4 linked regions of the Homo sapiens genome follow. The main gene of each other region encodes a partner of the protein of the gene in region 3 in a complex. Each region holds a gene or a part of one and is shown on either strand. Other genes may lie near its edges.

The links.
Region 1: the proteins of PABPC1 (region 3) and PAIP1 are in contact, whole or in part, in an NMR structure (PDB 1JH4), measured with the Homo sapiens proteins. Residues at the interface, in NP_001425211.1 of Homo sapiens: Pro555, Gln556, Gln558, Lys559, Gln560, Met561, Gly563, Glu564, Gly579, Lys580, Thr582, Gly583, Met584, Leu585, Leu586, Glu587, Asn590, Leu593, Ser605, Lys606, Glu609, Ala610, Ala612, Val613, Leu614, His617, Gln618; in NP_006442.2 of Homo sapiens: Ser126, Lys127, Leu128, Ser129, Val130, Asn131, Ala132, Pro133, Glu134, Phe135, Tyr136, Pro137, Ser138, Gly139, Tyr140, Ser141, Ser142, Tyr144.
Region 2: the proteins of PABPC1 (region 3) and CARM1 are in contact, whole or in part, in a crystal structure (PDB 5DX8), measured with the Homo sapiens proteins. Residues at the interface, in NP_001425211.1 of Homo sapiens: Gly452, Ala453, Ile454, Arg455, Pro456, Ala457, Ala458, Pro459; in NP_954592.1 of Homo sapiens: Gln148, Tyr149, Phe152, Tyr153, Asn161, Met162, Asp165, Glu257, Pro258, Met259, Gly260, Tyr261, Asn265, Glu266, Met268, Val340, Leu412, Thr413, His414, Trp415, Tyr416, Lys470, Pro472, Phe474, Tyr476.
Region 4: the proteins of PABPC1 (region 3) and LARP4 are in contact, whole or in part, in a crystal structure (PDB 3PKN), measured with the Homo sapiens proteins. Residues at the interface, in NP_001425211.1 of Homo sapiens: Gln560, Gly563, Glu564, Phe567, Pro568, Gly579, Lys580, Thr582, Gly583, Met584, Leu585, Leu586, Glu587, Lys606, Glu609, Ala610, Val613, Leu614, His617; in NP_443111.4 of Homo sapiens: Leu15, Asn16, Pro17, Asn18, Ala19, Lys20, Val21, Trp22, Glu24, Ile25.

The regions. Positions count from the first base shown.
Region 1 is NC_000005.10:43,533,066-43,540,084, forward strand, and holds part of PAIP1 (polyadenylate-binding protein-interacting protein 1), read right to left. Parts: intron 5,971-7,019; coding exon 5,859-5,970; intron 3,880-5,858; coding exon 3,754-3,879; intron 2,576-3,753; coding exon 2,469-2,575; intron 1,906-2,468; coding exon 1,788-1,905; intron 728-1,787; coding exon 673-727; intron 1-672. UniProt on the Homo sapiens protein: Acts as a coactivator in the regulation of translation initiation of poly(A)-containing mRNAs. Its stimulatory activity on translation is mediated via its action on PABPC1. Competes with PAIP2 for binding to PABPC1.
Region 2 is NC_000019.10:10,867,376-10,874,571, reverse strand, and holds the start of CARM1 (histone-arginine methyltransferase CARM1), read right to left. Parts: upstream 3,020-7,196; 5' UTR 2,870-3,019; coding exon 2,650-2,869; intron 2,144-2,649; exon of another isoform or gene 2,095-2,143; coding exon of another isoform or gene 1,980-2,094; intron 1-1,979. Other genes in the region: C19orf38 (protein HIDE1 precursor), read right to left, coding at 5,205-5,354. UniProt on the Homo sapiens protein: Methylates (mono- and asymmetric dimethylation) the guanidino nitrogens of arginyl residues in several proteins involved in DNA packaging, transcription regulation, pre-mRNA splicing, and mRNA stability.
Region 3 is NC_000008.11:100,719,073-100,726,317, forward strand, and holds the start of PABPC1 (polyadenylate-binding protein 1), read right to left. Parts: upstream 3,017-7,245; 5' UTR 2,512-3,016; coding exon 2,319-2,511; intron 1-2,318. UniProt on the Homo sapiens protein: Binds the poly(A) tail of mRNA, including that of its own transcript, and regulates processes of mRNA metabolism such as pre-mRNA splicing and mRNA stability.
Region 4 is NC_000012.12:50,396,127-50,403,901, reverse strand, and holds the start of LARP4 (la-related protein 4), read right to left. Parts: upstream 3,018-7,775; 5' UTR 2,892-3,017; coding exon 2,874-2,891; intron 2,754-2,873; exon of another isoform or gene 2,621-2,753; intron 2,496-2,620; exon of another isoform or gene 2,423-2,495; intron 1,228-2,422; exon of another isoform or gene 1,131-1,227; coding exon of another isoform or gene 1,089-1,130; intron 1-1,088. Other genes in the region: protein FAM186A, read left to right, coding at 7,418-7,609. UniProt on the Homo sapiens protein: RNA binding protein that binds to the poly-A tract of mRNA molecules. Associates with the 40S ribosomal subunit and with polysomes. Plays a role in the regulation of mRNA translation.

The sequences.
Region 1 (7,019 bases), on a different chromosome or scaffold from region 3:
AACTTAATTCTACTTCCTTGCCCTAAAAAAACTTCTCTGTGCTAGAGACACAGGACAGTCAATGCTTGGAATCCAGAGGAAACAAATGGAAAAATTCCAACCATAAGCTGGTTGCAGTTTGTACCAAAGGGAAAAATTTCTCTTCCTCACTCTACAGTTCCATCTAATACAATTAAGGCAATCTTTCTATAAATGGTCCTCTTCTGGAAGAGGAAATGTGCAGAGATTTGGATTTTAATTAACTGTCACACACCAAGTATGAATGAAATGTGTAATTCTTCGTGTAAAGTATTAACCCATATTAATATATGTTGCTGACTATGCAGTGAACTAGAATCGTCTTTCCCCTCCATTCTAATCACCTGAAAATTTAAGATTATAAAAAAGTTAGAGGAAATATAAAATTAAAATAGTTGCATTTAATTGAGAATTCTTCCCATCCTCTGTTGTTAAGTGACAAGACATTATATGTGGAATCATACTTTCATTTGAAATGTTTCAAGTGGTCACTATGAAGAGCATTCTATATTAGACAAACCATTACACTGGTATTTTAGAATGATGTGAAGACATCAAAAAGTTACAATCTTGTGCTGGTGAGGATGTGGTTTTCTGTAAATTTACTACTTTACCAAACAACTGGGAGGAGGGAATGACTGTGAGACAACATACCTGGATCAGCTGCAGTGAAAGGAACACCATCAGATGTATAAAATGTTGGTTCATTCTAGGATGAATCAAAGTGATAAAAATATGTAATCATTTCAGAATTGATTTTTGTAAGTACAATAATGAAGCATGGCTGATGTCACCCGTCTGCACCTAATAATGCAAGAACAAGCAAAGGAACCTAACTTCCTGGTAGCCATTTTCACTTCACTGAGAAAGTCTATGGTTTTCAGATTTCCATGCCATTATCTCAAGTTCTTGTGGTTCTAACGGTGCTGTCTATTGTCTTTCAGTGAACTGTTCTGTTGTGCATTGTCATTTAGTGTCAGTGCATTTTTAGCTGTGGTTTCCAACCCCACCATTTCTTTTAAGAATTTCCAGGACCAGGGCTGGAGGAACATTTCTCCACAGCTGCTTTATGTTTGTTCATGTCAGGAGCTTCAGGGCATCACTGGCCTAGTAGCCATTTTTTTTTTTTCCCTGAGACAGAGTTGTGCTCTTGTTGCCTGGGCTGGAGTGCAATGGCGTGATTTCAGCTCACCACAACCTCTGCCTCCAGGCTTCAAGCAATTCTCCTGCCTCAGCCTCCCGAGTAGCTGGGATTACAGGCAAGTACTGCCACGCCCAGCTGACTTTGTAGTTTTAGTAGAGACGGGGTTTCTCCACGTTGGTCAGGCTGGTCTTGAACTCCTGACCTCAGGTGATCTGCCCACCTTGGCCTCCCAAAGCGCTGGGATTACAGGTGTGAGCCACTACGCCCAGCCAACCAATTTTATTTTATTTTTCGTTACTACAACATGCAAAGTAAAAGTCTGAGATGCAGGTCCTTGGTTATAAATTCTCTGGAAAAGCTGCTTCCTGGCATCCCTGTGCTCACTTAAGTCCAAGCCTTGTCAATCTCTCTTGCCATTGGATATATCTTTCTCTAGTCCACCCTTTCACTGGAGAATTCCAGGTCTCTTTTCTTTTTTACCCAGTCTGATGGCTGCCATGTCACTCAAAGCCAGTGAAGACAGTTATTAGGCACTGAATTCTGAGAACAGCTTTATGTAGCTCTTCTAATTTCCAAAACGGAATTCAAGCAATAAGTAAAACTTAAAATATAAACACTGGCATACCATAAAGTAGTTAGGATCATTTTCTGGTGTTGCTTCTCTATATGTTGAAGTTGCATGGACTCTGCCCCAGTTACTTGACCGGAGTTCTACAAGCTTCAAGAGCATCTGTTTTACATCTCTGTAGACAAAGTTGAAAATGAGTTAGTGTATCCACCATAAGGGCTGTCAGACCCTAAAATATCTCAGATTCCCAAAACTTTATTTCCTTAATTTAACAGGTACATCTGATGCCTTGACTTTCTAGACGTTTCCTATATGACATAAATTCATTTAAAAAAAAAATAGCCTTGAATTATGTTCCACGTAACTATGACTATATGGACCTTAAAGGCAGTGGCTATCCTTCAAACATTTTTATGTGTCCTACTATACTTACAGTAGTACTTTTATTTGTTGGACAGTTAATATTTGGATTTTGTTTTTCATTTAATTCATATCTTAAGAAAATTAGCTTTTTCAATTTCTAAATGTAATTGAGCAAAAATATCTGACACGTCTATCACAAAAATGTCTAGTGAGCAGAAACTATAGGTAAAATATTATTCCTTTAAAGAAAAGCATTTTTGTATATCCGTTAGCCATCAACTTACCCTGCTGAAGTATAGCAAATTAAAAAACAATCTCCAAAGAAAAAGCAAGAAATTGAGATGCACTGGCTATTTACATTACTTCTTTTCCTACCTACTGCAGTTTGCATCTAGGACAACGTTTTCAATTCTCTGAATAATTTCTTCCATATCCATCTTTCCTTTTTCCTTCCAAGCATCTTCCAAAACTGATCCTGTCAACTAAAAAAGCAGGTGTCAGTAAAATAAGAAATTCAATAGTGTATTATAGAAATTCTAAAAAGATACCAGTAACAGTTCAAGCATTCTCTAAACAAGATGAATTTAGCAAGTTTAATATTCCTAATTATTCTGTCTACCATCTAATATTCAGTGATCTCTACGCCCTCTATATTTCTCTTGACTGAGAGAAACTAAAACAAAAAAAACAATAGCAGAACTTTAATCATGGGTTTTATGTCAACGACTGTTATATTCCCTGTATGACTAAGATAGGCTATTAGATTTTAATGAACATGTCACTTTTTTTGAAATATACAGCAAGCAACAAGTATAGAAGCTTTGAATAAAAAAAAAAAACACAAACATGCATTTCATCAGGAAATAAATCAGTTAAGGATTTAAACAGGTAATTTATAGGAAATAATAAACAAATGGCTAATAAACATGAAGAAATGCTTAAAATCATCTGACAAAACAAAAACCAAGATTGATTATATCCATCACTATAAGGATGTAGGAAGAGATGTACTCATTCTGCTGATGGGGCTATACTCTGGTTCAGCATTTGGAAGGCAAATTAGCCATTACTTGTCGTAAAATACATATGCTCGTCCACCCACCAAATCCGTGTTTAAGAATTTAACCTACAAAAGTATCTGCACATATATATGACAAGAGGAAAGATTACAAGCAATGCTGCCATGGCTAAACTGAAGATAATCCAAATATTCATTAGTAAACATTGATAGATGTTACGGAATGGATAAACAATGCATATGCATATGACAGAATACTAGGAAGTTATTCAATAAAAGAGGTAAATCTCTGTGCCATGGAAAAATCTAAGATGTTTCATTAGGTGGCAAAAACAAAAACAAAAAGCCAGAACAGAGTAAGATCTTATTTAATAAGAGCACATATACAGAGATAAGAAGGGAAGAAGACAGAATTTGCAAATGGAAATGGCGTAAAGGACTTCCATTTTTCACTTCTGAACTTGCTTCATATATTAAACAATAAGTATATCTCGCTTTTCCAAAATATTCGAGAAAAAAGTAAAATGTCAATATTTACCTTAAAGTGATAAATCTTGAATTCATCTGTATACTATATAGACTAACCTTCCTCTAAATCATAAGTAAATACGTAAATTAGTTAAATTAAAAAAAAAAACCTACCTTTAACAATTTTACTGCACAAATTAAATTGTCATCCATAGGATTAGAAAACAGGGCATTCAGCAATTCTCGAAGACCAACCTGAAGAATATCTGCTCTTGTAACCTGTCCATTTGTTCCCTTGATCTTTCGGGACCAAAAAAAAGAACAAAAGGAATGATGCCAAAATATAATACAGATACATAAATGAACTAACAAGGTGTTGGCAAAATAAGCATTTTAGCTAAATCACAAAAGTCACAGGAACACACTCTGATATCTTCACAGAATTTGTTAGAATTACTTTATATGTAACTAAGACCTCTAATAAAACTGGTAAGCTATGGGTAAAATTTAATACCAGAGTCAGCATAATTTAAGCCCACTTTGATGTTACTACTTCATAAAGCTTTCTTTAGTTTGTTCAACTACCACTTTTTTTTGAACACACAGCATTTTATTCTGCTTTTAAAATATTTTAAAATATGGTATTTTGCATCAGAGTGGTATATGTATCTTATATCACTGTGTAGAAGAATTTTAGGTGCAGGAACTAAGCCTTATCTTTACATCCCCCATTGACCTAGCATCATTATCTCCATATAGAAAATGCTCAACAGTATTTATTTTAGATTGCTGTCCATATTTTGGCTTAAACAAAAATTAGACTGAAAAAGAACATGGCATAAGATTTTTCAAAAAACTAAGTCTACCTGTGGTAAAAAGGCATAGTAAGTTAGGCTCTGGACTGGACATAGACCTTTTAGATACAATGACTGAGATGCACATTTGATAGATTCACATTGTCTTATGATGTTTCTGATATTATGGCGTTTACGATCTTAAGTTCTCAAATCAGGGTGTAAGAAGGTATAAGCTTATATCTGATATTCACTAATTTAAAAAATCAAGCAGAGGCTGGGCATGGTGGCTCATGCCTGTAATCCCAGCACTCTGGGAGGCTGAGGCGGGTAGCACCTGAGGTCAGGAGTTTGAGACCAGCGTGGCCAACATGGTGAAACCCCATCTCTGCTAAAAATATAAACATTAGCCAGGCATAGTGGTACGTGCCTGTAATCCCAGCTGCTCAGAAGGCTGAAGCAGGAGAATCGCTTGAACCCGGGAGGCGGAGGTTGTAGTGAGCCGAGATCACGTCACTGCACTCCAGCCTGGGTGACAGAGCGAGACTGTCCCCACCCAAAAAAAAAAAAAAAAAAAAAAAATCAAGCAAATCTATTACACAGTAATAATGCCGTGCTGAATCCAGCACTTCTATTGCCTACTAACAAGCATATACTTAAGTATACCACCCAAATTTATAAATACGTTTAGCTGTAGACTTTGTACAAATGCATTTTTATGTGGAAGATTAATATATAAAATAGGACAAAAAAGAACTATTCTTAGGGGTTGGGGTATTGGGGAGATGTTGGTCAAAGGACACAGAATTTCATTTAGGGGGAATAAGTTCAAGAGATCTCTTGTACACCATGATGACTATAGTTAACAATATATTGTATACATGAAAACTGCTAAAAATTTTAAGTGTTCTTAACACAAAAAAGTATGTCAAGTAATGCATATGTTAAATAGCTTGATTTAGCCATTCTACGATGTATGCATATATCAAAGTGTTGTGTACCATAAAGATATAATTTTTGTCAATTAAAAAAATATTTTTAAAAAACTATTTGGGTGAATTAGAGTGAAAAGCCTAGAGAGACTCTAGTCTCTCTTTTCACTCAGAGTTCTGCAGAGTAAACTGCTTTGAGCCACCATCTGAAAGTCAACATACTAAATGTATTAATATATAAGATGTAAGAACTCAAAAAGGTATCACTGTTGATATCTCAAGAACTTAAATTTGCATGTAAACCACAGCTTCCTAAAAGTACGCAGATTTTTACCTCAGTAATTATTTCCTAACATTCTGTCCATGAGTAAATGTTATGGACAGACGGTCCAGTAAACCACAGACACTAGCAGGTGCCGAAACATGTTTTCTTTCCTCTCTCTTTCATTTCACTCTTAATGTTGTAAAAGTACAATGTGAACACAAATTCCTCATTGAGATCAACTTATGTTCTCAGGCCTTGTTAGTACTTAACAAAAGAAAAACTTCTCACCTCCAGGTTAAGATAAAGTTCTCCCAGAAAGAGTACAAATGCATGAAATCGTTTTCGAGTAACTTCATCCCCTTTTGCAGCTTGATCTTTAACTTCATATTCAGTCCGACATCTAATTAAAGACATATCTTTTATAATCTCACATTGCTTTGCTTTTTAAATAGTCAAACAAAATAACCATTTGTCAGTTTGGTTGTCCACAGCAAGAGGCAAGGACAATGTCCCAATGCTCTTTCTACAATAAAGAAACTGTTCCTGACTATTGAAGAGGCTAGAATATACACCATCTTTTCATACTAAGTCTCCCAGTTTGAAAAAACTGATAGTTTTATTTTCAACGATTTTTATCAAATTTAATATGTTTAAGCAACATAGGTGTAATCTGATTCACAGCATACTGGCAGCCCAAAGAGGGGAGAGAGAGCCTCACCTTGTCTTATAGGTTTTTTACTAAGAAAGCACTGATTTTACCCAAATTGTCTCTGTAATTTTTTTTTTAATACTACAACTTTGAAAAGGATCTTTAAATACACACACACACACACACACACACACACACACACAACCTCCAACTGAAAATAAAATGAATTGTTTTTAAGTCCATTATTCTTGTAATTTCCATTATACGTATCAGAGAAGTACTAATGTGAGGAAAAAATTCCCCCATTAAAACCACAATATAGAAAGCACCGGACTTGTTTTCTATTTCCAATGAGACTGACAGCTTCAAATAACTGATTTTTCCTTGCTCTCTTTGCCCCTGACTTGACCCATTTGCTTCACACAGAGGAGAAAAAGAAGAAATCCTCTTCTTGGAGCTTATTGTCAGTCATAGTTCCTACAAGGTAACTAAACTAGGCACAATAATCCTGTCACTGCCTTCATAAGTGAACTACAGTGTCAGATATTGTTACTAACATAGATTTTTTAAATGGACTGTAAAAGTTTATCATTTTGTTATTAAGTATTTGTAATCTTTATTGATAAGGTGAGAAAACTCTGGGAAAGTAACTTGCTTCACAAAACTGGTTTTGACAGTTTTCCTTTTCAAGACAAAGGGAAAAGCTATGGGTACTGAATGGTTTCCACGCAGCCAGTTTAGGTTGACTTTGTAAACAATTTTTAACAAAGAAAAAATAAATTACCTCTTGTTCAGTAATT
Region 2 (7,196 bases), on a different chromosome or scaffold from region 3:
AAAAAATATGAAAGATTAGCTGGGTGTGGCACATGCCTGTGGTCCCAGCTACTAGGGAGGCTGAGGTATGAGGATCACTTTAGCCATGGAAGGCTGCAGTGAGCTGAGACTGAGACTGTACCACTGCACTCCAGTCTGAGCAACAGAGTGAGGCCCTGTCTGAAAAAATAAAAAATAAAAATAAAAAAAATAAAAAAGAAAGAAAAAAAACAAAAAAGTGTAAAAAAAAATTATTTCAGAACCCTAAGGATATATCATCTGGGAATCTGGGACTGAGGCTCTCTGAGGAATGTGGACTTTCTCCTTTTTATGAATGTTTCCGGTCAGGTGGGGTGGCTCACACCTGTAATCCCAGCATTCTGGGAGGCAGGAAGATCACTTGAGCTCAGAAGTTGGAGACCAGCCTGGGCAACACAGTGACATAGTGAAACCTTGTCTCTAATAATAAAAAATGTTTCAGTTACCAATTACCTCTCAAAGAGAAGTGCTGTCTTAATAACAAGTAATACTTTCAAGAGTATCAACAAAACAAAAACAAAAACACAAATACAAACACAAAATGTTACTCCAGGAATAAGATGGTAGGAACATCTCACTATGTTGCCAATACATCTATAAGACTAAAATTGTTCTGGCCGGGCGGGGTGGCTCATGCCTGTAATCCCAGCACTTTGGGAGGCCAAGGCGGGTGGATCACGAGGTCAGGAGATCAAGACCATCCTGGCTAACATGGTGAAACCCCGTCTCTACTAAAAACACAAAAAATTAGCCGGGCATGGCGGCAGGCGCCTGTAGTCCCAGCTACTCGGGAGGCTGAGGCAGGAGAATGGCGTGAACCCAGGTGGCAGAGCTTGCAGTGAGCCGAGATTGAGCCACTGCACTTCAGCCTGGGGGACCGAGCAAGACTCTGTCTCAAAAAAAAAAAAAAAAAAAAAAAAAAAAAAAAACTAAACTAAAATTGTTCTAAAAAAAATTTTTTTTTTGAGATGGAGTCTCACTCTGTCTCCCCGGCTGGAGTGCAATGGCACGATCTCAGCTCATTGCAACCTCTGCCTCCCAGGTTCAAGTGATTCTCCTGCCTCTGCCTCCCGAGTAGCTGGGACAGGCACATGTCACCACACCCCGCTGTTTTGTATTTTTAGTAGAGACGGGGTTTCACCATGTTGGCCAGGCTGGTCTCGAACTCCTGACCTCAAGTGATCCTCCCAAAGTGCTTAGCCTCCCAAAGTGCTGAGCTACCCCGCCTGGTCCTAAAAAAATTTTTTAAAGGTTTACTTAAAAATGATAGCCAACTCTCCTGGAACTCCTTTGAGGATAAGCCCTGGGACCCTAGTTTTGGAAACGCTGCCCCGCTTTGTTCTGTTCAGGACAAAGTTGGCTACCAATGCTTGCCCAGTGAATAGGTTTTGCTTATGATCTGGGGTTCTGTTGAGCTGAGTGTCTGCCTTGAACTCTGAAACCCCCGCTGAAATACCCTCCTTCCCCTCTCATCTGGTCCAAGAAGACCCAGGCTCTGCACCAGCAAAAAGAGACGGCACCCTCGGACAGCAGACACAACTCCTTTAGTCCACGTTTTCAAAGTCGAGGTGCAGGGAAAACCCAGTGTGAACGGACTGCTCCTCGGGCTTTCCTTTAATCGGGCCGTTTCCAAAGTGGCAAAAAATTCACACAGGACCCAAGCTAGCTAGAGGCCTCCTGAGGGGTTCCCCAGGGCATCAGTGCAAGAAGCCCTGAAAGACAAAGCCAAATGACACAGAGTAGCAAAATGTGAACAAGGAATCAAAGAGAAGAGATAAGAAGGAGTAACAAGAAGAAGAATGAACTACAAAGACTGGGAGCGGGGGTGGGGGGTGCTGGCAAACGCATTTGTGATTTTCTTTTCCCCCCAGTGAAATGTCAGTTTTGAAAGCAGCTTCGGAAAATGTAACCAGCTTCTCACATCCCCCAAAAGAAGATGGGAGGAGGCTGTTAGCTCTTACTTCGAAGCCCGGCATCAGGAAGGGGCCCGTCCCGTCCACGTTTCCACGAGGAGCTCACCCTGCGGCTCCCACCGTCCCCGCATGGGCCCTCTCCCCAGATCCTGAAGTTTCCCATTCGGGGGTCCTGAACGCCACACCTCGCACAGCGGTGGAACTCGGTACTCGCGGGCGCCCCAGACCAGCAAACACTTTCCAACCGTCCTGAGCTATCCAGGGGGTCCCCAGAGGGATCCCGGGCCGCCCACGCCCCACCCTCCTCCCTGCAGAGGCGGCCACGCCCGCCCCCGAGACGCCCACCTCTCCCGCACCCCGGACCTCCCTCCCCCACGCTTAAGCCCACCACGCCTGGCGTCCTCCAAATTCCCCTTCCACTCAGAGCCCCCCACTTCCTGCTCACCCACCCCTCCCAAATCTCAGGCCCTTCACTCCCCATTTCGCGCTCCCTTGCTCACTCTGGGCACCTTGCCCCTCCGGCCACCACGCACGCCCTCTTTTCTCTGTCTGTCCCCTGGCACCGGCCCTCCACGGTCGCTCCCTGCAGGCCACCGGCTCAGTCCCGGGGACCCCACGCCAGGCCCCCGCGCTCAGGGCCCCTCCCCGCCGGCCCCCGCCCCGGGCCGGCCTCGTGAGCAGCCCCGGCCCTGCGCCTGCCCCGGGGCCCCGTACTCACGGCTGTAGAGGGCGATGCCCGCCGAGTCCGGGCCGGCGCGCACCTCGAGGCGCAGCGCCTGCTGCTCCGCGTGCCGCTGGATCTCGCCGTTCGCGTCGCCGATGGTGAGGAGGCGGGCGCCGGGGAACACCGACACGGTAGCGCAGGGCCCCGCGCCGCCCGGGACCGCCGACCCCGCGCCGCCCGCGCCCGGCCCCACCGCCGCCGCCGCCGCTGCCATCTTAGATCCGGCTCCAGGCCCCGCCGCCGCCGCCGCTGCGCCCGGGCCCAGGCCGCCGCCGCTGCCGCCGCCGCCGCCGCCGCCGCCGCCGCCGCCGCCGCCGCCGCCGCCGCTGCCGCTACCGCCGCCGCAGCCGCCGTGCAGGCCGAGGCCGAGCCGGGCAGCGCCGCCTGCCGGCCACGCGCCGCCTCGCCGCCGCCGCCGCCACCGTCGCCGCGGCCCGGCCCCGTGGCGCAGCGCCCTCTGCCGGCCGTCCTGGGCGCGGGGAGCTAGCGAGCGAACGAGAGGGCACCCCGTGGGGCGGGACCGGCTACGCCCCGCCCCGCGAGAACGGTCGCCGCTTTGTGAGGTGGCTCCACCGCCCGGGAACTGCGGGGCGGGAGGGTACGTCGGGGGCGGTGCTCGGGCGCGCGGGCACGCCCCTCGGAGGCCTGGGCCCCGCCCCCAGGCCGGCGCCTCATTAACGGCTGCTTTCGAGTGAGGCGGTGCGGGGACGGCGGGGGCGGTGCTCGGCCGCGTGGACACGCCCTGTACCCCGCCCCACACAAGCAGCCGCGCGTCGTGATGCGGCTTCCCTGCCCCGACCTGGACACGCCCCTGAGACTGGGCCCCACCCCCCCGGGCCCGCCCGGCTTTGTGAGGCAGCCCTCAGGGAGGCGTGGCCCAGCCGCGACGAGGCCCCGCCCCCGTGCCTGCCCGCGCCCTCCCACCCGGACTCGCTTTGTCAGCCGCCCCGCTCTGGGGAATGGGCGGGGGAAAGGGCGTGGCCAGCGCCCGGGCCTCGCCCCCAACCCTTCCCCCCACCGCCCCCGCACCGACGATTTCCGATGAGCCCTGGCCTCCAGGAGCAACCTGAGCCCGGTTGAAAGGACCCCTCCCCGACATTCGACCGCTCCTCCTCCCTTCCCCATCATCTCTGCCCACATTGCCTTCTTAATCCTTAATGTTTGACTGTCTCCTTTCGCACAAGATATCCTTTGACCCCCTCCTCTCTCAGCCCCTCCTCCAACGATGCTGAGTCCAGCCTGGCCCGGCGCAGGGCCCCTCTCCCGCCACACAAACCCGTCTTCTCTCTGCATCCCCCTTCATTTTGGGTGGCCCCATCTCTTTTGGGCGACCCAGTGAGCTTGGGCCACTTCCTAGCACTCCAGCTTTAACTCTTCCCTAGACCTCATTTACGCCTCATTCCTTTTTTTTTTTTTTTTTTTTCTTTGAGACGGAGTCTCGCTCTGTCTCCCAGGCTGGAGTGCAATGGCTCGATCTCAGCTCACCGCAACCTCCGCCTCCCGGGTTCAAGTGATTCTCCTGCCTCAGCCTCCCGAGTAGCTGGGACTACAGGCATGCTCTACCACGCCCAGCTAATTTTTTATTTTTAGTAGAGACGAGGTTTCACCATGTTGGTCAGGCTGGTCTTGAACTCCTGACTTCAGGTGATCCGCCCGCCTCGGCATCCCAAAGTGCTGGGCCTACAGGCATGAGCCACCGCGCCCGGCCCCTTTTGTTTTTTGAGACAGGGTCTCACTGTGTTGCCCAGGCTAGAGTGCAGTGGTGCCATCATAGCTTACTGCAGCCTCAACCTCCTGGGCTCAAGCAACCCCCTGCCTCGGCCTCCCAAAGTGCTGGGATTATAGGTGTGAGCCACTGCGAGGGGCCCTCATTCTCCTTCATGTCCCTCACCCGTAGCCCCTGTCATTCCACCTCCTAAACCCTCTAATGCAAGTACCGTTGCAGAGACCCTGGCATGGCACTGCTGCACTCCCCACACCCCCAGGAGGCTCCGCATACACCACCCTGACTGCCCTTGAGAGATGCTTCAAATTTGGTGAATTCAGACACGCTCCACCCCCCAGCCATCCAACCATGGGATCCAGAGGTCCCCAGCTTGAAGGATTCCACTCCATAGAGGCCTGGGAACACCTTGACCCGTGTTATAATTAATAACTTAAGCAAGCCAGCAGGCAGACACACAACACACCCAAGGGCACCCTATGCTCAAAAACCCACTGGGGAAGGGAGGAATTCCACGGGTGTGCAGAGACCTGGGACGTCTTATGGCCCAGCTGGGGGACAAGAAGGGGTCCTGACATCTCCTTCTCTGGTGGTCCTGAGGAGCCGAAGGTCGAGAGGGGAACTTCCTGTTGTCTGTATAGTGCCAGGCCCATGCCTGTGTCCCCTCTCCCACTCCTCTGTGATGAAAATCCCAAGGCCAGGGTTCCCCTTCCTTTCCTCTGTCCAATTCCCTGAGAAAGTGGCTGACAGAGCCCCCCCAGAAGTAGCTGGAGGGACCTCAGGCCCCCGAATGCCTGGAGACAGAGGGGTCCCCCAGTCCTCAGCCTCACTGGCAGGCCCGGAAAGTGCTGAATTCGGGGGTCTCAGGCGAGGAGGACGTGGAAGTGGGCCTCTTCCGGGTCCTGGAGTTGCTGGGGGTGGCAGTGGTGCCTGAGTGATCATCCAAGGTGGCCGGGTCTTCTTCTGGCATCGTTTTCTTTGTCCATGTAAGAAGAAACACAGAAGTGGGTGATTTGGGGTTTCAGGATCTAGGGTTTCTCCATGTTCTGAGCCTGAGACTCTGCCAGCCCAGCAGGTCTCCTCTCATCCCGCCCCCACCCACACCCACCTGTCCTGGTCTTCCCTTCTCCTGCCTTCCTCTCTGCTAAACTGGGGACCAGAGAGCATGGATTCAAACACCAGTTCCTTCACTTTATAGCAGTGTAACCTCAGTTGTGTGGCTTCACCCCTCTATACCTCAGTTTCCCCTTCTGCAAAACGGGCAGAATGCTAGTACCCACCACTTCCTAGGGCTGCTATGAGGCTTAAAAGAGTAAAACTGATAAAGCAAATGGCACATCGTAAGCTCTTCTTTGCTAAGTGAACACAACCATTCATATTATCTCCTCTGTTGGGCCCAGTGGCTCACGCCTGTAATCCCAGCACTTTGGGAGACCGAGGTGGGTGGATCACCTCAGGTCAGGAGTTCGAGACCAGCCTGGCCAACATGGTGAAACCCTCTCAGAAAAATACAAAAATTAGGTGTGGTGGTGCACGCCTGTAATCCCAGCTACTCGGGAGGCTGAGGCAGGAGAATCACCTGAACCCAGGAGGTGAAGGTTGCAGTGAGCTGAGATCCTGCCACTCCTCTCCAGCCTGGGGAACAAAGTGAGACTTGGTCTCAAAAAAATAAATAAATAAAAAATAAATAGTATTATCTCCTCCTCCCCTCCCATTTGCCCATGGGCAAAACATTCCTCAAAAGTCTACCTCCTCCTCTGCCTTGGAGGCTCCTGACCCTGATCCTAGTTAAAGAGAGATGAATTTGCTAGAACTAAAGCCACTCAGTTGACAGCAGGCTGGGGGTTCCACCCACAGTCCTGTCCCTCCCAAGCTGGGTGACCCTAGGCCCATTATCAGCCTCAGTGTCCTTGTTCGTAAAAAGAAAATAATCGATCCCACCTGAAAGGGTGTTACAAAGTTGCATATCAGACACTCAGCAAGGTAATGGGGAAAGCTAGAGACAGGTCAGCTGCTGCCTTACCATTTCAGCCAACGACAAAGCAGTATAAGGCTTCAAAAGGAAACTAGAAGTGAAAGCAGAGACTCCAAAAGAAATTTGCATACCCATGGTCATGGCACGGTTCTGCACAACAGCCAAAAGGTGGAAACAACCCAAGTGTCCATCAACAATTGAATGGATCAACAAAACTTGGTGTATCCATACAACACAATATGATTCAGCCTTAAAAAGGAAGAACAGGCTGGGCACGGTGGCTCACACCTGTAATCCCAGCACTTTGGGAGGTCGAGGCGGGCGGATCACCTGAGGTCAGGAGTTCAAGACCAGCCTGGCCAACATGGTGAAACCCCATCTCTACTAAAACTACAAAAATTAGCCGGGCATGGTGGCAGGCGCCTGTAATCCCAGCTACTTGGGAAGCTGAGGCAGGAGAATCGCTGGAGGCTGGGAGGCAGAGGTGGCAGTGAGCCGAGATCACACCACTGCACTGCAGTCTGGGCGACAGAGTGAGACACTGTCTCAAAAAAAAAAAAAAAAAAAAAAAAAAAAAGAATGTTCTTCCTTTTTTTTTTCTGAGATGGAGTTTCGCTCTTGTTGCCCAGGCTGGAATGCAATGGCGTGATCTCAGCTCACAGCAACTCCGCCTCCTGGGTTCAAGTGATTCTCCTGCCTAAGCCTCCCGAGTAGCTGGTATTACAGGCATGTGCCACCATGCCCGGCTAATTTTTTTTTTTTTTTTTTGTAGTTTTAGTAGAGATGGGGTTTCTCCGTGTTGGTCAGGCTAGTCTCGAATTCCCAACCTCAGGTGATCTGCCC
Region 3 (7,245 bases):
AGAAAATTTCAAAATCTACAATTAATTTCAGGATCTATAAAGGATTGAATTATGTATACCTGTACCATTAAAGGCTCTAAATGAAATAACACATCCTTAAATAAAAAGACTAGTCCCCGAAGAGAGGGAAAACGGTCCCTTTTAAGCCCTGAAACAATTCCTACAAATTCCATGCCAATGTAAATTTAAAAGTTATTGACAGGATGAATTTTCCGGCCACCTCTTTTTTTATAAATGAAAGTTCCAGTTTCTAGAATATAGTGATAATCAGCTGTTAGCTCATTATCAATTGACCACACCTACTCAGCTTCCCTAGTTTTTTTTTTTTTTTAGCTGACTTTGCTTGAGCTATTTTTCAATGAGTCACCTCTTCCTATGAAATTGAAAACTGGTCACTTTCAGAAGCTATTCTGCCTATCAATGTAGCAATAAGTTTTTAAAAAAGAACAAGAAATCCACTTAAGTAATTAATTGGATAGTAAATTGTACATACAGAAACTAGACAAATGGAAAACTGCCATATTCTTTTCAGTAGTTAGGGTACTGGTCTACTGGTACAGACTGATAATATATACTGTACACTGTAACCACGGCAACCTGAAGTTCAACTCTTCGAATCCCAAGAAATGTAAAAATTGTTTTTTGGATTTAAAAACGTTAAGCTGAGAAAGAGTAACACTTTCAAGTTTTCATTTTGTGGTCTCTAGAATTCATTCCCATGTTTTCTCCACCAACTCTTAGGTTGTGATAACCTGCCCCAAAGTTATCTACCCCCATCTGACATGCATTGATACATCCTGCCTAAGGTTGACAAGAACTGTTATGAAGTGACATTTGGAGTTACTGCTTACAGAGCAAAAGGGCAGGAAACCTGCAGTGCAGTTTTACAACTTCTGGCTCTGTGTCACTCAATATTCTGCTTCCAAAATCAGTATCAACTTTACACAGTGAAGAGCTGATCAGTAACCTAAGTTCTACTGAATGAATGTTAATAGGAGCTTAAATTCCACCCTTAAGGCCTTTTCTAATAAAAATGAATTCTTCATATTTCGATTATTTGACATGTATTCAAGTGGCCAGCCTGTAGGGGGGGAAAAAGGCAAAATTGGGCCGTAAAATGGAATTAAGCTGACTTCTCAAAGCCAATTGATCTAAAGACAAATCCTAGCAACTCAACAGACCACAGATATTATCTGTTTACAAAATTGTGTTTCTGTTAACTGTTTAGCTTCAAAATAAAAGCACAAAGTTAGCTGCATTTCCCCCATAAATTTCAAGCTCAATTTAATCTCCGTTATTTTGTACTCAGTCATTTCCCAAGATTTACAGGTATCATGGGCCACTTTTAAAAATAAAAGAGAAACTTGAACTTCTTGCATGCTACAGATAAGACTGGTCCAGTTGGAATTACACTAAAGTAACATTTTATAGCCAAAGTTGACTATTTTATAAAGAAAAGCCCCTCAAAACGACAGGAACTATTTCAGAAGGTAACATAATATACTCGAAAACCACCAGTACTGTGAATCTAAGATAAAATTTGACTAAAAATGGTCTAAGTTGCCTGAGAAAACTGGCCTTCAAAGTGGTCGGCTGCCACATCCCCTCCTCCCACTCTGCCCTTTTAATGTTAGAGAAATGCTTGATCTAGGGGAAACCCCAAATGCATGTCTCCGGTAAATTCCATTCCTAGATCCATCAGTCACTGATGAGTTCTGGGAAGTGGACTCACAAGCCTGAGGACCACCACCACACCACACATCGCCACAGGAACTTTATCCTAAGGCCTGGTGGCTCCCCCAGGCGACTGGGCCAGGAGCAGGAGCAGAAGCAGGCCTCGGGCCTGCGAGGTTACAGGGTTCAACACGTGGTATTTTTCGAGCACAGAACTGCACTTCCTCCCCAGGCTGGGGCGCCGGCAGGAGCTCCGGGTGGTGGGAGCGCCTCCACCTCTTACCCACGGAAGGAGCTCAGCGTTCAACGCCCCAGAATCCCGGGGCCACTGGCGGGAGCGCCGCGGAGGAACCGAATCTCACCCACCCTCCCGGCGCGTCATCACCCTAAAGTTTGAGAGCGTCTGAGGCCGAGAAAATGGTCGCAAAGGAGGAAGTAGCCGGGCGTGTGGCTGCCGGCAGCGCGGGTCCCCGCCGGCTCGGGAAACGCGGCTCCAGGGACCCCGGCGCCTTCCCGCCGGCCGTCGCGGGGTGACATGCCCTCCCGCCCCCCTCCCCGGGCCCGCCGGCCTACCCCGCCCGCCGCCGCCGCCCGAGCCTCATGGCCGCCCGCCCGCCCGGCCGACCGCGGAGCCCGGCGCTCACCGTCCGCCGGCTGCTGGAAGTTCACATACGCGTAGCCCAAGGAGCGGCGGGTGATCATGTCCCTGCAGACCCGGATGGAGAGGATGGGCCCGGCCGGGCTGAACTTCTCGTAGAGCATCGCCTCGGTCACGTCGGGGTGGAGGTCCCCCACGTAGAGCGAGGCCATGGGGTAGCTGGGGGCACTGGGGTTCATCTCGGCACGGCTGCCCGCAGGGCCACAGGCCGCGACCTTTCCGTGAGAGGAGGAGAGCGAGTGCCGGGGCTGGGGGCCGGAGCCGGGGGGAGGGGAGCGGGGAGCAAGCGCAGAGGGACAAAAATCAACCGGAATTGAAAACTACTCAACGGCCGCAGAACGGGGTCGATCCACTGCCGCTGGCTGCCGGCTGCCGGCGGGGAGCGAGGGTGGCGGTGTCGGGTCCGGGCAGCGGGAAGGCCTCGGTCTCTTGGTTCCTTCTTGGAGCTGCTGCGGGGCCGCGGGCGGGCGGGTCGGTCTCGGCTGCTTCACCGGGTTATTTTATAAAAGAGGAAGAAAAAAAATAAAAGTCTCCGGCGGGGGAGACGCGGATTTTTTGTAAATTTTTTTGGGGTTTTTTAAAAGATTTTTTTAGATTTTTTTTGGATTTTTTAATAATAAATGTGTGTTCCGAGCCCGGAGCACACACTCCGCACTCTCAGCACTAACCGCCGGGGAGAAGGGGAAGCACCGCCTCCTGCACCCTCTACTTATACCCCGCGCCGCACTCGCCCCGCCCCCGCGCGTCTGACGCCAGGGCCCCTACGCGAGCGTCAGCGCCGGAGTAGGAGGAGACGCGGAGGCCAGGGGGAGGAGGGAAGAGAAAACAGGAGGAAAGAGCAGAGAGGAAGGGAGAGGTGGCGGCGGTGGAGGCTGCGGTGTGGGGGTGGGGCTCGGGCGAAGGGGCGGGGCTTTTGCGCAGGCGCCGCGGCCGGGGAAGCGGAGCCCGCGCTGCGTCGCGTCCGTGGGGGTGGGGAGGACGGCTCGCGGGCGGTCCTCGGGGGTGTTGGCTGAGGCGTCCCCGCCTTCCGCCCCGCCCGCCCCTGCCTCCACCAGGAGGAGCGTTAACCCGTCACCGCGGCGGTGGGCGGTGCAAAGGGCTTCCGGGTTCCTCCGCGCTAACCACCCCCCACGTGCGCGGCCGCCTGTGGCCTCTTCCCGCTGCGGCCGGCCCGGCTCCTCTAGCCCCAGCTCCGGGGGACGCCGGGCACGGGTGAGCGGGCGTGGTCCCCTCCGGGCCCGGTTTCCGAAACGTGCGTAGATGGAGCCAGCGTGGCCCCCTGCTCTCTCCTACCCGGACCGCACTACGAGTCCCAGCCGGCACCGCCGCCACGCGCGTCGGCCGCAGAAGCGGTGCCTGCTGGGAGCTGGAGTCCCCAACGGCCGCGGCGCTCGCTGACACCAACTGGCTGCGCGGGTCCTGGCCGCCCGCTCCGGGACCCCCCAACCGTCCTGCGCGCTGGACCCCGGCACCGCTGGAGCTCCCGGCGCGGGGTTGGGGGGCAGGGAGAGAGAGGGGAGGGCCCCTCGGGTTCCTCGTCCTCTTCTTTTCCAGCCCGACCCTCCTCCGTGTCTTCACTGGACGTTGTCGTTGGTCAAAGTGGCTTTAATTTGGGATAGCTGTGTTGGGGGTCTTTGGTCACTTCTTACCTTAAGGTGCTAGGCTGGAATCATTGATTTGTGCTGCTTCTGCCAGACATTTCTTGGCGATAGAAACCAGGAGTGGAGAAAAGTGAATGTTTTTCCTGAAAGTACGGGTTTGTCACAATCACTACTATATGGCACCACAGCCCTGCAACCAGACAAAATTAGGAATAGTCTAAAACAACGTCCTTATAAATAACTAAAACAATTCTGCACATTAGTAGTGGGTTTTAATAGGAATGCTAAATTTAACGAATTGATAGTAATAAAAACCGGCTCTAGGAATGACATTAAATCAACATACAAATTCCACTCGAAAGTAGTAAAGTGCTTTTACAGTTTTTAAAGCACTCGCGTAAACATACTATCATTTGTTCCTGAGAGCAATCTGGTGTGGGAGGTGGAGCAAGTAGTAATAATTTTACTTTACTGTTACAGGAACAGTCTCAAAGAAGTTAAATGATTGCCCAATTTATTCCTTAATTCAATAAACTTTAATGGATGTCAACTGTATTGCTAGGTGTGGAATTAAGTACTTTATATCTTGTCTCATTTAATTAGAATTTAAACCAGTGGAATCCCACATAAATACTATTTTGCTCCTATTAAAAAGAGGATAAAATGTGACCGGGCGCGGTGGCTCACTCCTGTAATTCCAGCACTTTGGGAGGCTGACGCACGCTGATCACTTGAGGTCAGGAGTTCGAGACCAGCCTGGCCAACATGGTGAAACCCCGTCTCTACTAAAAATACAAAAAGTAGCCAGGCGCGGTGGCTCACGCCTGTAATCCCAGCACTTTGAGAAGCCAAGGGGGGCAGATCACGAGGTCAAGAGATCGAGACCATCCTGGCCAACATGGTGAAACCCCGTCTCTACTAAAAATACAAAAATTAGCTGGGCGTGGTGGCGCGCGCCTATAGTCCCAGCTACTCGGGAGCCTGAGGCAGGAGAATCGCTTGAACCCGGGAGGCGGAGGTTGCAGTGAGCCAGGATTGCGTCACTGCACTCCAGCCTGGTGACAGAACGAGACTCAAATAAATAAAAAATAAACAGTTGTTAGGCTTCCAGGGCAGCTTGACAGGCAGTGATGCCCTGGATGGTAAATGGAAGCATTCTCATCACTAGAAAAGTATATTAGTGCTTTGTAGGTGAATACATAGTTTGGGAAGGGAGCCAGTCATCAGGACGTCTATGCAGCTGTGGCTCTTGCACTTAGTAGATGTCATTGTCATATTTTATGGAGGTACAGTTGAGTATGTGCAAGGGAAAGTAGAAGCAAAGTCCATACCTGAGGACAAGGAGCTGCTATTTAATAGAATAGGAGAGAGAGTCAGAGCCCAGGAGGAAACAGGAGTGGGATCTGGAACTGAAACCAAGAACCTGTTCCCTTGATCCATCAATCACCTCTTTTTATTTCCAGCCAGCTGCTTTCGCTCAGATCAGAAACTGGTCAATTCAGATCAAAAAGAAAACAAACCAATCTTCTCTTAATGACATATTCCTCTCTCATTCACTTTTTTTTCATAGCCAAGCTTTTCATTTCTGCTTTCTCTCTCCTTAGTTCCTCAACACTACCGTATGACTTCCAGCTGCACTCAAATTGCCCCATCAACAGTTGCCAATGATCCCTGTTCTATTTGACAAATCCAATGGACTTTCTTCAGGTCCATTTTACTGGACATCTGCAGAGTTTGACACTGTTTTCCTCCCTCTCTTTTGTCACACACTCTCTTGGCGTCTGGGCTACACTTTCCTGGTTCTGCCTCTCAGATTCTTCCTCCTCTCCGCCAGTAACTTACCATTCCCTGACCACCAGGTAGGATTGGGCACCCTTCCTTTGGTTTTTCCCCTGCCCCCCGCCAACCCTGCCACTACATTTACTACGTTATATCAAAATAGTGTGTTTATGAGCGATCTCCCAAAATAAGTTGTAAGCGCCAAAAGAAGGCTTATGTCATGTTTATCTGCATCCCAACCATCTACCGTGAAGCCTGGCACACTGAGGGTGTATTTTTTCTTTTTAAACCTAACTTCAGGGAGAGGGCCAGCTAGGCCTTGTAGACTGACCATATAGGATGAGGGTTAGTTGGGAGGTCTCAACCTGATGGTCACATGGGCACCTAGGGCCGTGTTCACCTCCAGACTGCTTGGCCTGCTGCAGCATGTTACCTCTCAGCTCCACAAGCTGTTTCGGGGAGCGCTTCCTGACATGCTGGTTGGGCTCTCATTTCTAGTGCTGGAAGTAGTGGACTTTTAGTACCCCAAATCAGGCAAGCAGGGACAAGCAAGGACTCCTGGACAACAGGAGTTTCTGGACCTCCAAAGCTGAGGACGCTGTATGGTGGTAATCCCACTAATGTTCTGAGACCCCTTTTTGATGTTAGCAGTCTGATTGCTTGTGATAGAGGTAATTAAGGCTACGAATAAAAGGCAGAAGATGAAATATTTGTTGATTCCTTTTGCCTTTTTGATTCACTACTCTCATTTTTCTCTCCTATCATTTTTTTTTGTCTTAAAAAATGTGCTGTCTATGTTTATCTGGCTTGCCTGTGTTTATCTAATTTTAGATTGCAAGCTGTGGGACAGAATAATGTCTTTATATGTGCAGCATCTCACTGTGGGTGCCTAAGAATATCTAATGACATTAAAGTCATTCAATTAACCTGTTTTTATTTAATGAGTAAACTGTAAAGTTCTCCAGAGAGCTTATTCACTTGAACTTCACTAGCAATTTATAAGTAATTTTCAGGTTATATCCAGGATACATTCAGAATATATCCAGGATAATTTATAGTATCTTGTGTAATGTATGTAAGATAACCTGGCCTTTTAAGATCTTTAGGTAATATAGAGAGATTTATTTGAAATGGATAATAAGTGTATTCGTTGAGAACAGATCCCTCTCAATTGAAGGGGTATACTTTCTGTAGATCCTTGAAATAGAAAAAATATTATATGATGTCTGTGATAAAATCAAAACTATGCAATGTTTCAGAAGATGAGCTTCCCACTTAATTGGTTTGCCAGGTTGGTGAGGAACATAACACCTACTCAGATTTGCAAATTGTCATGCCCATGATCAGAGGAATTCCTATAATGAGACTCACTTAGAGTTTATGTTTTCTTCCATACGCATTGCATATTTTTCTCATACCAACCAAGAATGAAGAAAGGAATTTATATGAGTTTGAAATGGGGTCCTGTTTCTAGATTGTGTGTCAGATGTTGTAAGCTGACATTAGTTCTGAGAAAATGGCGAGCAATCAGAC
Region 4 (7,775 bases), on a different chromosome or scaffold from region 3:
GAGATATTGAGACTTAAGATGTACAGATATCTATATATGCAAAAACATCAAACGTTCCTGACACAAAGCACGATACAAGTATATACTACTACTGTTGTTATTGTTATATTGCTATTATCTATCCTACTGATTCTAGTGGGATAGTTAAGCTGGAATCTCTCCAGAAAAATACACATAAGTAAAAGGTATTGAACACAACTGCAGAGGACCCAGGGATCCCAGATTAACCCTGCCAAAGATGATCCACAAGCAAGTTGGTTTAGTAAAGCAGTTCTTAACCTCTTCTGTGACACAGACCTCTTTAGTAGTCCAATTAATCTATGGATCTCTTCTCCGTTTTTTTACATTTCTAAAATATATAGGATCACAAAGTAAACCAATTATATTGAAACGCAGTTATCAAAATATTTTAAAATGTCTAATATAGCAATACGTTAACAATATTTTTGACATATAGCAAGTAATGAGCATAAATATTTCAAGATAACTGCAAAAGCTGTAATACATGTAAAAAAGTGATTTGTCTTGGTGACAAGGTCACATACACTGTTGCTGCCATTAACATTTAAAGAATTTTCACTTCTTTTCCATTTAGATTTCAGTTAGAAGCTAGAGAAAATAAACACGCAAATTTTTTTCCTCAACCAAGCTTAGGTACTTACTTCCTCAATTCTATCCAAAAACCTAGATTAAGAACCTTTGACTTATGGGAAAGTACAAAAATAATTTTGAAGCCAGAAATTTATGTTCTAGAAGTCAGACTTCAGACTTTAGCCCCCACATTATTTACACTTGAATGACCTTAGACATCTAACTTCTGAGCTTTGGTTCTCTCACTGAGAATAATTCCTCTATCATGAGGTTACAGGGATCAAATATTAGTTAACAAAACGCCAAACGACCAACATGTTGTTTTTCACTGATTTTAATACCACATATTCAGCCCCAAATATTTAAAGACAGTTAATTTTCAATAAAACTCATATGAGAAAATGAAGAATGACATAGTGACTCACAAAGAAAATGATTAATGGAGATACAACTTTTAAACACTAGTTTGGCGAGAGATACGATAGAATTTGTCTAACCTGGGGAGTCGGACAGGCCTGAATTGCTAACATCCCGTCCATGATTTGACATCAGCATGACCTGGATCTAAATCCCAGTTAAACTACTTTACTTTTACTAAGTAAAGTTACTTTAACCTCTGGGGCTCGGTTTTGTCATCTGTAAAACATATTAAGTATCGCTTTAGAGACAGGAGAAGACCTAGTTTAAACAATAAATGGAGCTGTTATTAAAACTTACATTTTAATAAAGCCAAAGGAATCAATTTGGAAGTCAAAAGTATATTGTGGAGTTCCTGTCAATATAAACTTCACAATCTTTCTTCTGCCCAGCAAAACACACACTTAAAACCTGTGGTATTTACATAGCATAACATTCCTTAAAAAAACTGGCTGGCACTGGCTTAAAATCTTATCTGATTTCTTATTCTGCCTAAGGAAAACAACAATGAGGACAGAAAACAGTAAACAGAATGAGTTCAGTAATTTTAAGTCTTTTCATGATTTCCCCGGAATGTTCCAATGAATGTTTATTATGAATGTTAGATACACTCTAATGTAGCAGTCTTTTAAAAAACTAATTTAAAGATATCAAGCTTATCGGCGACACAATATCAGTTAGTTTAAAGAGAAAAAAAAACCGTAAAATCATTTATTTACTTTATGCTGGAATATTACGGAGTAAGATTTTCCCACAACCCGGAAAAAAAAATCTGCCATAGGCTGGCCCCGGCTCCTAGATTCATTATACAACCCGTAAATTCCTTCCCTCATTGAAAAGATTCTTCTTATGGGCATAGTTAACAAATGCCAAGTTGCGAAGTTGCAGCTTTGCTGGTTTGACGTTTTCACAATGTAAGAACAATATGATCTGGAATCTACTCAAAGCATTAGCCAGGCAGTCAGCTGACGCTCACTGCACACAAGAGGACAGAATTAAGGGAAATTAAATTTCGTATTTCTGTAAGGCAGGTATCCAACTCTATCTTGAAAACTAAAATAGGCCAACAGCAGACGTTCTAGTTTAAGTAATAAAAGTGTCTCATTGTTCAAATAACATTACAAAAAACGGCTTTTCCCGGAATAAGTTTCCCTCATTCTTGGAATTTTCCTTGTAAAGGGCTTTTAATCGGTTCATAGAACCAACCCTTCATCACGCAGCTGCTGCTTGAGTAACTTTTACAAAAGGTCAAAGCGGTGCCTTTCAAGGCTTCCAAACCCTACTGGCTTCTCCTCGATTCAAAGTAACTCGCTTTCACCCACAGAACGTTCCAGAGACCTAGGGACGGGGCCCGGGCAGAATTTGGTGGAAGTTGCTCAAAAGAACTTTTCAATTTTCTTTTCAAAATACTTACCGCATTTCACCTTTCTCCATCCGTGGCCCCACATGTTGCTCGCCTCCCTCCCAGAGGGGCCCCGCGAGGCCGCGCTCGGCCCCCGGAACGCGCCCACCTGATTACCCTCTCCTCCCTCAGACTCCGCCCCCCAACCCCCCAATGCTGCCTCCTTTAGGAGGTCCATATGGGACACTTTCCCCTTCCTCTGAACCTCACCGCCACACCAGAACAGCCCTCCGTTTTTCTCCTTCAATTCTTCTCCACTACGGGCCTCACCTCCCATAGCTTCCTAGAGTGTTGTGAGCGCGCAGAGGGAAGCTGCAGGCCTGCTCGGCCCAGGTGCTGTGTCAGCCTATCTGCCGGTTCCGCGGCGTGTACGGCCCGGAAAGTCACATGGCGGTGGGACCGGCCGGCGCCTCTACACTCCTGCTCTCCTAAGAGCAGGACGAGACTAGCATAATGCACTCACCTCCACGAAAAGCAACATGTCGTCCTCTGCTCAGCCCAATCGTTCCCGCCGCCGCAACTCCAACTGGCTCACAGGCCCGCGCCCCAATTGCTAGGATAAGGACACACACTCGCCTTGCCCCTCCACCCGGCAGTGGACCCGGCTCCTCCCCTGCCGTCAGCCGCTGCGGCCTGACCCGCCCAGTCCCACCTCCCTTGAAACAACAACTGCTTCCGGGTCTAGGGAAAAATTGTTTCCGGGAGAAAAGAGAGCCCTCGGCGCGCTCAACTTTTGCACTATCTTTTCCAGCAGCAGTGTGGGATGTACTATCATCTGTCGGGGGGAACGATTAGAAGGAGACGCCATTCTGTGGCACGGGGATGTGTAAAAATCGTAATGACACATTTTATCACTTGTCAGATAGCTACACAGCACTGATAATTCCGCAGTTTTCATAGTTCACAATCTAGATTTGATTTTTAAAGCCGACCTTGGCGAAGTGTACTGAACAAACCAACCCTGCCGAAAAGTGGTGGCTCACAGAAGAAAAGTAGACAAGAAAAAAAAAACAAAAAACTATGATACTAGCAAATATGTTAATAGCAGCTAATGTATATTAAATGCTTACATTGTGTTTGGCACTATACTAAGCATTTTATGTTAATTGATCTTAAAACAATTCTATGCAATAAACACTATTATTATCATCCCCATTTTACAGTTGAAGAAGCCCTCTAGGAGGTCGGGTTTCCCTTTAAAGAACTTTGCCCCAGGCTCATTTGAATTAATTACCCATGTCACCGCTTAATATACCAGTAATAACACTTAATCTGGACAGTGTCTTCTTTGACGTTCTGTCATTAATTCAAACGAAATACAATAAAAACAAAATTTTTAAAATTATCTATAATTTTTGTTAGATGGTCCAAATTCCTTATTGTCTTTAGCAATATGTAGTAGGATAGATCGCTCCCACTTGTATGTCCTAGTTCAAACACTCATCTTTTGAAATAATCATGTCTTGGCTGGGAAGGGTGGCTCACGCCTATAATCCCAGCAATTTGGAAAGCTGAGGCGGGCGGATCACTTGCGGTCGGGAGTTCAAGACCAGCCTGGCCAACATGGTAAAACCCCATCTCTACTAAAAATACAAAAATTAGCCAAGTGTGGTGGTGCACACCTGTAATCCCAGCTACTCGGGAGGCTGAGGCAGGCGAATCGCTTAAACCCAGGAGGTGGAGTTAATAGTGAGCCAACATCGCGCCACTGCACTCCAGCCTGGGTGACAGAGTGAGACTCTGTCTCAAATATAGTAATAATAATAGTAACGAATAAAAATTGGCCGGACACCGTGGCTCACGCCTGTAATTCTAGCACTTTGGGAGGCCGAGGCGGGTGGATTGCCTTAGCTCAGGAGTTCAAGACCAGCCTGGGCAACATGGTGAAATGCCATCTCTAGTAAAATACAAAAAATTAGCCAGGCATGGCAGTGTGTGCCTGTAGTCCCAGCTACGTGGGAGGCTGAGGCAGGAGAATTGCTAGAACCTGGGAGGCAGAGGTTGCAGTGAGCCAAGATCACGCCACTGCACTCAAGCCTGGGTGACAGAGTGTGACTCTGTCTCTAAAAAATAATAATAATAAATAAAAATGAAATAATCATGTCTTGATCTTTTCCAATGGATTTTTCCATTCTATTATTTAAAAAATCTTCCCAAAGTGAAGGTTTCATTTTCACCAAACCACTGTTACTTGATTTCAAGACTTTGCCATTCTGATCTCATGAAATCCTCCTTGCTTTGCCGCAAATGGAATCTCCTCAGATACCAAATTAATTCCACCACCAAATTGCTGATATCTGTTATCTCAGGCCCACCCTAATGTGGTCCTCAGTAAATTCCCGTGAAGTCATCTCAGTGATTAAACCAATCTCCTTACTTTCCCCCTAAGATGCAAACTCATTAGCACTCACCGCCAAAGCCATGGCTCAAGGTGTTGCCCCTACCTGGATTGCCTCCATTTGTCAATCAACCTTCTCTCTCCATAAGGTTTTCTCAAAGATTCTGCTTCTACAGATCTCTTCTTCGTGTCCCTTATTAGCACTTGATTATTATATTCTATCTTAAATCTTTTCTTTTTTGTTTTAGTTTCTTCACAGGAACCCTATCATATATTCTTCAGTTTAGGATAATGTAAGCTGCATAGTGTTTCAACAAATGCTTGTCGAATTGAAAGGGAAGCAGGATTTAAAAATTGACTTTAAGAAGCCTTCATGGCCAGGCGTGGTGGCTCATGGCTGTAATCCCAGCACTTTGGGAGGCCACGAGGTCAGGAGATCGAGACTGTCCTGGCAAACACGGTGAAACTCTTTCTCTACTAAAAATACAAAAAATTAGCCGGGCGTGGTGGTGGGCGCCTGTAGTCCCAGCTACTTGGGAGGCTGAGGCAGGAGAATGGCGTGAACCTGGGAGGCGGAGCTTGCAGTGAGCCTAGATCGTGCCTCTGCACTCCAGCCTGGGTGACAGAGTGAGATTTTGTCTCAAAGAAAAGCCTTCATGTCTAGTTGCTGATTGATGAATTCCATGCTGCATAAAAGATGCAAGTGAGAGAGAAAGAATAATGCAAATTTAGTTTAGTTGACAACTAAACTTTGGGAGGCCGAGGTGAGTGAATCACTTGAGGAGTTTGAGACCAGCCTGGCCAACACAGTGAAACCCTATATCTACCAAAAATATAAAAAATTAGCCAGGTGTAGGCCGAGTGCAGTGGCTCACACCTGTAATCTCAGCACTTTGGGAGGCCAAGGCATGCAGATCACGAGGTCAGGAGATCGAGACCATCCTGGCTAACATGGTGAAACCCCGTCTCTACTAAAAAATACAAAAAACTAGCCGGGTGTGGTGGCGGGCGCCTGTAGTCCCAGCTACTCGGGAGGCTGAGGCAGGAGAATGGAGCAAACCTGGGAGGCGGAGCTTGCAGTGAGCCGAGATCATGCCACTGCACTCCAGCCTGGGCCACAGGCGAGATTCCGTCTCAAAAAAAAAAAAAAAAAAAATTAGCCAGGTGTGGTGGCGCATGCCTGTAATCCCAGCTACTCGGGAGGCTGAGGTAGAAGAATCGTTTGAACCTGGGAGGCAGAGGTTACAGTCTGCTGAGATGGCACTACTACACTCCAGCCTGGACAACAGAGTGAGACTCTGCCTCAAAAAAAAAAAAAGAAAGAAAGAAAGGAAGGAAGGAAGGAAGGAAGGAAGGAAGGAAGGAAGGAAGGAAGGAAGGAGAAAGAAAGAAAGAAAGAAAAAACAATACATACACCTGTAGTAAAACTATGTAAAAATAGATAACACAAATATGTAAAATTCATGATTGTCATTTCCTCTGGAATGGGACAGTGGGGAAGGAAGGAACCAGGGGTGGGGGACATCAAAGAGGACTTCAACCTTCTGTAATGCTTTTTTATTATTAAAAAAATTGGAAGCAAATATTAAACAAAAATTAGCCAGGCGTGGTGGCGCGCACCTGTAATTCCAGCTACTCAGGGAGGCTGAGGCACAAGAATCTCTTGAACCTGGGAGGCAGAGGTTGCCATGAACCAAGATCACACCACTGCACTCCAGCCTGGGTAACAAAGTGAGACTCTGTCTCCAAAAAAAAGGGAAAGAAAAGAAAAGAAAAGAAAAAAGAGTAAGCAGTGCAAAGAGTGTGATCCTCATCCAAATGATATCATCCAAGTTACTTCATCCAAATGATATCATCCAAGTTACTACATGTCTAGGAAAAGTTAAGGGGCAGCTGAGGAAGTAGTTGTAACCTTTATTCCATTACAGGCTTAAAAATACTTAAGCAAAACCCCAGGAAGAGAGAAGAACCAGGAGTTATATTTGACACACCTAGATTTTTTTTTTTTTTTTTTTGAGACAGTTTCACTCTTGTTGCCCAGGCTGGAGTGCAATGACGTGATCTCGGCTCACCACAACCTCCGCCTCCCGGGTTCAAGTGATTCTCCTGCCTCAGCCTCCCAAGTAGCTGGGACTACACGCATGTGCCACCTCACATGGCTAATTTTGTATTTTTTTTTTTTTAGTAGAGACGGGGTTTCTCCATGTTGGTCAGGCTGGTCTCGAACTCCGACCTCTGGTGATCCACCTGCCTCGGCCTCCCAAAGTGCTGGGATTACAGGCATGAGCCACTGCACCCGGCCAACACATCTAGATTTTAAGCTTATTTAAGCAGGGCTATATCTTCTGTTTATTTTAGCATTCCTGTTGTCTATTATTTCCTACCCTCCTTCCCCCCTCACCCTTCTACCATGGCAGCATATAGAATGACCAGTTCTCTGCACATAGTAAGCATTCTTTACATGTTTGATCAATGATAATGTCACAATGGGTCTATTGTGACATCAACAGGACGGGAATATCATGGGAGCCACCAATTAGTAGCAGAGTATGCCACAACTTCTAGGATCAGGAAAGACCTCTCCTAGCTTCCTACTGGATATCTTTATTAGCATTTTTGTAGATTCTGTGAAAAAGAAGAAATAAAACGAAATCACCCACATTTTCAAAATGTTCTTCAAAATGAAAAATGAGATAGACAATGACCCTGAATCAGAAAAATGCATCAAGGATTCCACCATCATGAGAAGAGAGCCCCAAAATATCCTTAGTCCTTTGATGCTCCCTAACCTTGAGATCCCATTCTCAGTAAAGGATATCATCTCTAGGATTGAGCGCGCACAGCTCCATCGAGCCAGAGAGGTAGGTAGTGAATCTGAAGTTTACAGACTGCAATTTTCTTTTTAAACTTTCTGTGACCAAGTACATTTTTGTTTATTTTAGAAATCACTTTCATGATATTTGACTGTATTTAGGGTAGCTTTGACTTCAAATGACAATTTCACCTGACACCGACTGTGGATATAAC